Linked DNA regions of Homo sapiens. The protein of the gene in region 1 interacts with the protein of each later gene in a pairwise test. Each region holds a gene or a part of one and is shown in the gene's direction. Other genes may lie near its edges.

What was found.
Region 2: the proteins of AFP (region 1) and EHD4 interact in a two-hybrid assay, tested with the Homo sapiens proteins (one large-scale study listed by BioGRID and IntAct).

Annotation. Positions count from the first base shown.
Region 1 is NC_000004.12:73,453,194-73,456,973, forward strand, and holds the end of AFP (alpha-fetoprotein isoform 1 precursor), read left to right. Parts: intron 1-571; coding exon 572-704; intron 705-2,042; coding exon 2,043-2,087; 3' UTR 2,088-2,097; intron 2,098-2,437; 3' UTR 2,438-2,981; downstream 2,982-3,780. UniProt on the Homo sapiens protein: Binds copper, nickel, and fatty acids as well as, and bilirubin less well than, serum albumin. Only a small percentage (less than 2%) of the human AFP shows estrogen-binding properties.
Region 2 is NC_000015.10:41,913,428-41,917,253, reverse strand, and holds part of EHD4 (EH domain-containing protein 4), read left to right. Parts: intron 1-3,826. UniProt on the Homo sapiens protein: ATP- and membrane-binding protein that probably controls membrane reorganization/tubulation upon ATP hydrolysis. Plays a role in early endosomal transport.

The DNA of each region.
Region 1 (3,780 bases):
CATTGGAAAACCCATTCTTCTCTTTTTTCCTCTATCACAGTCTGAGGTATGTTTCACAGTATGATAAGAATGTTGCCTGTTCTGGCAAGCTTTTTCTATTGCTCTGGTCTACTTTCTATTGCTCTGGTCTAAGTCCAACATGAAAGGCTTGCTAAGTGAGCAGTGCAGGCAATTAGTGCTGCCAGTGCCCAGATAAGGGGTGTGATAACTGGATGGGCAGGATTCGGAGATCTGGGTCTTTGAGTGTAGATAAGACACAGTTAAGAAGAGCGGACAGGAAAGGATATTCCTGGGGGATGAGGGGAGATTGCCTTCCACTACACATAAGTATGGTCAAGTATGAAATAGTGTTTTATCCACAACCTGCACAACTCCAGGCTGGTGGAACACTTGGCATGCTTTCAGCCTCAATCTTTCTACTGAAAGTACTAGACAAGGTGTGTGTGGTCAGTCTGGTGATAGGTTGATGGAGTAAGGGTTTAGGCTCTGAAAATTCTCTACTAGGAAGGCTGTAGAAAAATAGCATTGCATAACAGACTTCTCTTGTATTTTGTTTTGTTTTAAATCACAGGTTTCTCATTAACCTTGTGAAGCAAAAGCCACAAATAACAGAGGAACAACTTGAGGCTGTCATTGCAGATTTCTCAGGCCTGTTGGAGAAATGCTGCCAAGGCCAGGAACAGGAAGTCTGCTTTGCTGAAGAGGTACATGCAGCTCATTTCATACTCAAAATACTTGCTATGGAATTTTCTGTAGTGGATAATGAAAGGAAGACCCTACAAATTTATAACTTTAAAATATTTTCAGAGAGATTTAAATTTCATTGAGAAGCAGATTGAGGGATTCTATAAGATTTAAAAAATAATCACATTTTCTTGCTTAATATTAGGAAAATTTATAATATTAAAATATATTAATAGAATTAGTAATTTTAATTTATTTCCTAGTAGAGAAACCCATAAAGTGAATGTGTAAATAATTGACGGTAATTTAGATAGTTTCTGGCCTAAAATTGATCAATTCAGCTAAATGGATTAAAGGATTTAATAGCAAATTAATTGTGCAAACAGAGTATTAGGAGTCTATTTGTAGAAAATGTTTTTGAACTCATTTAGAAGCTTGCTTTTGTACATCAACAGAGTAGTATTTAGGAGTTATTTTAATTACATAGTAATTTTAGCTGGATAATTAGCCAGATTTTCTTTAACCAGGGGATTCTACCTAACATTTAAAAAAATTACCTTTTTTCAGCTTTATTGAGGCATGATTGACAAATACAAATTATATATGTTTAGGGTGAACATGTGATGTTTCAATATATTTATACATTGTGAAATGATTATCACAATCAAGATAATTGGCTAAATTTTACAAATCTTTAGTTTGTATTGCTACATATATTTGAATATAGCAACACTATACTTTAAAAAGATATTCTATAACTTAGCGTTTTTGTCAATTTTACCTTTCTCACCATGTAAAATCCAAAGACAGATATATTTAGAAATGTAGAGTTTTTCTATAAATAATATAATTAGATGCATTTGAGTGTGTGCACTTACCAGTATATGTGTGTGTTTTTGGTGGGATCAGGTAGGGTGGGACATAGATAACCAAATTAGATAAAACTGGTGAAACAGATTTGATGTGAAGCATTTCTGAAAAACATGACACAAGAAGATTAATGTTCTCTAATCTGAGAAGACATTTATTTAGATATAGAGAACATGAACAAATAGTAGCAGTGCTTTATCTGCAAACCTTTTAATTTCTAATAACTTGTAATTTGTAGAGGAAGGGGAAAGATTGAGAATACGCATTGATTTGGAGATTGTTATAGAAGAAAACTGTTGATGTGAAAGAATATTGTTTTCTCCCTGGCTTTTACTATCCCAGGTTGTTGGCATCAGAGATGTGTTTCTTCATTTTTAACTTAGTTAATCTACAAACCTATGAATTCACCCCGGATTGTAGAGTGTTAACTGTATGATTGGTATAATAATCCATTTCTTTATCTGATTATGTTTATTCTTAATTTTCAGGGACAAAAACTGATTTCAAAAACTCGTGCTGCTTTGGGAGTTTAAATTACTTCAGGTAACAAAACATTCAGACAAGCCTGAATACAATGTTGTTTCTCCAGAAATATCAATCCATAATGAGATAGATCATGAGGAGTGCCATTAATTCTCTTAAAAATACATGGAATTCAAAAAAAAGTTTATTTTAAAAACACTTGAACAAAATTACGCACACAATGTTAAATTAGTGGCTCAACTATGCAAAATCCTTTTTGGTTATTTAAAAGACTTCAACAAATGCTATCAGAAGACTTTCCTACGTATCCAATATTTCTCTGATATAAAATAATAGAACCAGTTACTTACTGCACCTATTAGTTTAATTAGTATTTAATATATTTTTGCTCATATTGCAGGGGAAGAGAAGACAAAACGAGTCTTTCATTCGGTGTGAACTTTTCTCTTTAATTTTAACTGATTTAACACTTTTTGTGAATTAATGAAATGATAAAGACTTTTATGTGAGATTTCCTTATCACAGAAATAAAATATCTCCAAATGTTTCCTTTTCCAAGTTTGCTTATTTATGAAAAGTTATCGATAATTTCTTTAGTTTTGTATACCATTGTCTGAAGCAGATTCTGTTAAAATAGCATTAAGTGTTGGTTATTATAGGAGATTAAAGCTATCCAAGGATGGATTTACAGCACTAGATCACTTGGTGAACTGAAAAATGTTCCCAAGTTAAACACTATTTGATGCTACCAGGGCATTTTGTTTATTAAATGACCATCACTGAAGTATTCTAACAGATAATCTGGAGATGAGAAAAGAAATTATTATTCTTCTATGGGATCTAAGAAAATTTAACATCTACTTTTTTTCTCAATCTTGTTCAGTTCTCTATTCACAGACATTTTAAAACATAAGAATATTACAGTTTTGATTGAATATAATTAATGTTTTCATCAATTAAATTTTTATTCCACAAATGTTTATTAAGCCTTCACTGAGTTCCAGGCCTTGGGCTGGGTACAGTCACTGTTCTCCAGTCGCTTCAGTAGAGAAGGAAGCAACACAATAATGATGCCTCAGATTATGACCACAAGGAGTTGACAACAAATTGTTGAGGGAACGAAAGGGTGGGTGACATCAGTTCTGACTGGAAAAGGTGCCATAAATGTTTAAGAAGAGTCTTAGAAAATGAATGAGCATTCATCAGTTCAAGTAAAAGAGAAGGCCATTTTATGAAAGAGGAAACATGGTCAGAGGTACTGGGTATGACAAAGTATGATGAATAGTTTTAGAGGAGTACAGGGTAGGTAGGAAGGGTAGAGATGTAGAATGTTAGGCAGGATGTGGAAGCTATGAAGGGCTAATCCAGACTCTCAGCGCTCTATTCTAAAGAGGTTGGACAATATCTTATGAGTAACAGAGGACCACAGTGATAGCTAAGCAGAGGTGTGCTATTAATAATTAGCTTTGAGGAAGATAATCTATGAGATACGGAGCATGGGCAATGGGGCAGGGAAAAGGGTAGAGGGGGCAAAGTCAGCAAGAGGTGACAAAAAGACCATTCCCCCAGTAGGGAAGCTGTTTATCTTCTTAGCTTTGAATAGAAATCTGAAAATTACATGCATACTTTGGCCTGGGCTCTGGGAGAAGACAATGGCTTTAGAGCAATAAAATGTGCTTTCGGTTCTTCTTCTCTTTTTTTTTGAATTGGAATCTGCTATGTTGCCCAGCTGGTCTCAAAATC
Region 2 (3,826 bases), on another chromosome or scaffold:
AGCTACTCAGGAGGCTGAGGCAGGAGAATCGCTTGAACCCAGGAGGTGGAGGTTGCAGTGAGCCAAGATCGTGCCACTGCACTCCAGCCTAGGCGACAGAGTGAGACTCTGTCTCAAATAAATAAATAAATAAATAAATAAATAAATAAATAAATAAGGAGCAGAAAGCTCGCTGGAAATGCCAAGCGCCTTAACCCGTAGAGCTTCCCTGCCATCCTTGAGCCTCGGGCCCTCTGAACGGGCCAGCGCGGCCTGGGTTTGGAGGCACAGAACGCTGCTCTGTATTCTGACACTGTGAATAATGAAAACCCTTGTGTGGATGCAGGGAGTGGGGGACGGTCAAACTTGCTGAGCTTACTTGCAGGAAAAAGGCTTGTGGTTTTTTTCTTCCTAAGAATAGTATCTGGCTTGTTCCTTTTCACAAAGGAAAATGTTTGAAGTATGGGTATTTGCAGCCGGAGCTTCTCAGTGCCAGTTGCTCGTGGGCAGTGCCATGCTGAGGAACGGGGACAGGAAGCGGGCTCACCCGGAGGAGAAGCCGGACTCAGCACGGCGGCCTTGGCCACTAACTCATGACATTGACCTCACGCCACCTGCAGTTTCATGTTCCACCGCTGAACTTGTTTCTGCTTAAATGGACAGATGCTTACCTGAGTTTTTCTTTTTGGAGTGTTTATATTTTCCAAAAGTGCTTTTATTTTGGTTTATTAACCTTTCTCTTGATCCAGTTTTCCTTTTTCACACCAACTGTTCCAAAGCTCTGTAGTCTGCATTATGTGTGTTTTTTTGTTTGATCCTGTTGACAACTACACAGTTGGGCATTTTTGTCCTCATTTCCCACCTGAGGGAACGGAAGCTCAGAAAGGTGAAGTTATGTCCCCGAGGCTTCACAGCCTGTAAGCTGCAAAGTATACGTTCAAACCTCGGTCAGTGTGACACCTCAGTCCAGAAAGCAGTCACCTGAAATCGGGAGTGAACAGCAGCTACAGTACCTCCTCCCTGTGTCCTTGTTTTCTGCACTGATCTGTTAATCTATTTATTCCATAAAAGTCTCCATCCACAGAAACCCTACAAAGTTTAGGTTTATCAAGCTGACACTTTGAAAACATGCAAAGGGTAAGTTTTCAGATGTCAGCTAAGAGATGTCAAGTCTGAGTTGGGTTGTGGAGTATGTTTATTTATAGAACACCATAATTAACCAGGATTCATGGCCCATCCAGATAAAGCAAGTGCGCCGTTTTAATCAAACTCGAAGTGTCATAAAGGTGACATTTTAATAATATGAAAAGTAGATAGATACTCTTCCCAAAGAGCTCTTGAAGTTTATTTCCCTTCTTTTTCTGTTTGTATATTTTTTTCACATCTCTGTATTTAAGGAACAGGGAAACTTTAGAGTGGGTTTTTGGTTAGCCTCAAAGATCACTTCTTACAATCTCAGTAGACATCCTTCTTGGAAGACGGCTCACACTCTGAGATGCCAATCAGGGTTCATTTCATGATTCTTTAAAGGAAGCTGTTTTGGGAAAGCCCAAAAAAGGGTTTGGAACATGTCATTTACTTTTATTCAGCTATAATTAAAATAGCCAAATTAAAGAAATTAGACTCATACAAATCCCAAACAATGCAAGTTCACTATCAGACCCCACCCTTTAGAAGCGTATTGCCCAAGAATAGGAAAGGCTGTCACCCATTTGGAGATCTTTGCTCAACAAAAATGAGGCAACATTTGAGGAAGAAACAAGTAAAACTGAGAAAGAAGAGGAGAGGTCAGTGATTTTCAAGGTTCACTGTAGTTCTGTGGAATTTAGCTTATTCTTTCAAATGTAGACTCTTCTCAGTCACATGTGATGTGCACAGCCTGGCTTTCTTGTCTATAGGCTGGGCACGGTGGCTCACACCTGTAATCCCAACACTTCAGGAAACCAAGGCGGGCAGATCACTTGAGGTCAGGAGTTCGAGACCAGCCTGGCTAACATGGTGAAACCCCGTCTCTACTAAATGTCATCAAAATGACAAAATGACAGTTTTTCTCTAGGCTAATAACTCAATGAGCAGAAAGGAAAGTCCTCCCTTTTAAATGTATATGAATGTATATGTAGTTCACACTTACACTCTGACACAGATCTCATTGTGTCCAATGATGTGTGTGTGTGTGTGTGTGTGTGTGTCTCCAAGACTGAGACACATGTACTAAAGAGTGATACTGGCCACATCTACTCTGGGCTTGGAGGGTAACTTCAGCAAGTGCTGGATACAAAAATTACAAAAAAAATTACAAAAAAATTACAAAAAATACAAAAATTAGCTGGGCGTGGAGGTGGGCGCCTGTAATCCTGGCTACTCAGGAGGCTGAGGCAGGAGAATCACTTGAACCCAAGAGTTGGAGGTTGCAGTCAACCAGGATCGTGCCACTGCACTCCAGCCTGGGCGACAAAGCAAGACTCCATTTCAAAAAAAAAAAAAAAAAATTCTCCTGTAAAGAAATGAGGCATTTTTTGTGCACCAAATGGATTCAGGCTAAAGCGTGTGAGAATCATGATATAATGGATCATGAAGATCCTGGTATTGCCTAGTCCTCGGCAGGGCTCTAAAAATAACTCAGTCAGCAGCCCTGAGCTACTGTGGATGTGTGTGTGTCAGTGCTTGAGCCCATAAATGGAAGCCTGTCTCTTTGAAGGTTGACCTCAGACAAGTGTGCAGCCCCCTCCGGTCCCCTTTAAGGCTGCACGGAATTACACGTGCCATTGGTGCCAGTTTTGATCTGAGCAGAATAACAAACCCTTGCTCAAGTCAGCTGCCCTTCTCTGCCTCTCACAGTCTCACACTCTTGTTACCCCATGGGTTCATCTTTTGGGTCTCAGGCTTATTAACTGAATTTTTTATATTATCATAAACCCACTTTATAAACGTGCTGATACCCTGGCTTTAAATACTCTATGCAGGTTTCCAGAGCTGGGCTTCCAGCCGCAGGTCTCCAGCAGGTTGCGTTAAGTTTGCAGATGAGCGTGGCACAGTGTGTCACCATGCCTTCCCAGCCCGCCTTCCCCAAACTACTGCCTGATCCTCACATTCCATGAAGCTTTTCATTCCAGCACTGGTCGCTTCCAGCATCCAGCACTCGCTGAAGTTACCCTCCAAGCCCAGAGTAGATGTGGCCAGTATCACTCTTTAGTACATGTGTCTCAGTCTTGGAGGCACACACACACACACACATCATTGGACACAATGAGATCTGTGTCAGAGTGTACGTGTGAACTACATATACATTCATATACATTTAAAAGGAAGGACTTTCCTTTCTGCTCATTGAGTTATTAGCCTAGAGAAAAATTGTCATTTTGTCATTTTGATCCATTTGATTTCCCCCAGTCATCCCCATTAGATGCCTTAGGGCTTCTGCAAGTTTACACAAGGCAAAGGATGACTTGAACAAGATACGAATGTTCAAAAGCCCCCAGGGGTCAATGTAAATTAAACACTTGGAACCCAAATTCATTATATTACTATTTAAATAGAGAGAGTTTATTAATTATTTGGTAAGGAGTAACCAGCCGGGAGCCCTCTCTCTCATTACTGTACCTCCAGCTGTTGGTCTTTGGCCATTAGTTGATAACAAGTTAACATTTGCTCCTCTTTCTAGTGAGCAGAGTGCATTCAAATACATGACCTCTTTTATTCTCATAATAACTCTGTGAGATGAATGTTGTTGTCATTTCTAATTTGTGGATGAGCACGCTGAGGTGGAGATGCCATGCCTGGCCCCAAGTTGCTCAGTGGGTAGGCAGTGGTCACGGGGCCTGAGCCTCATCTTCAAGCTCCAGGTCTA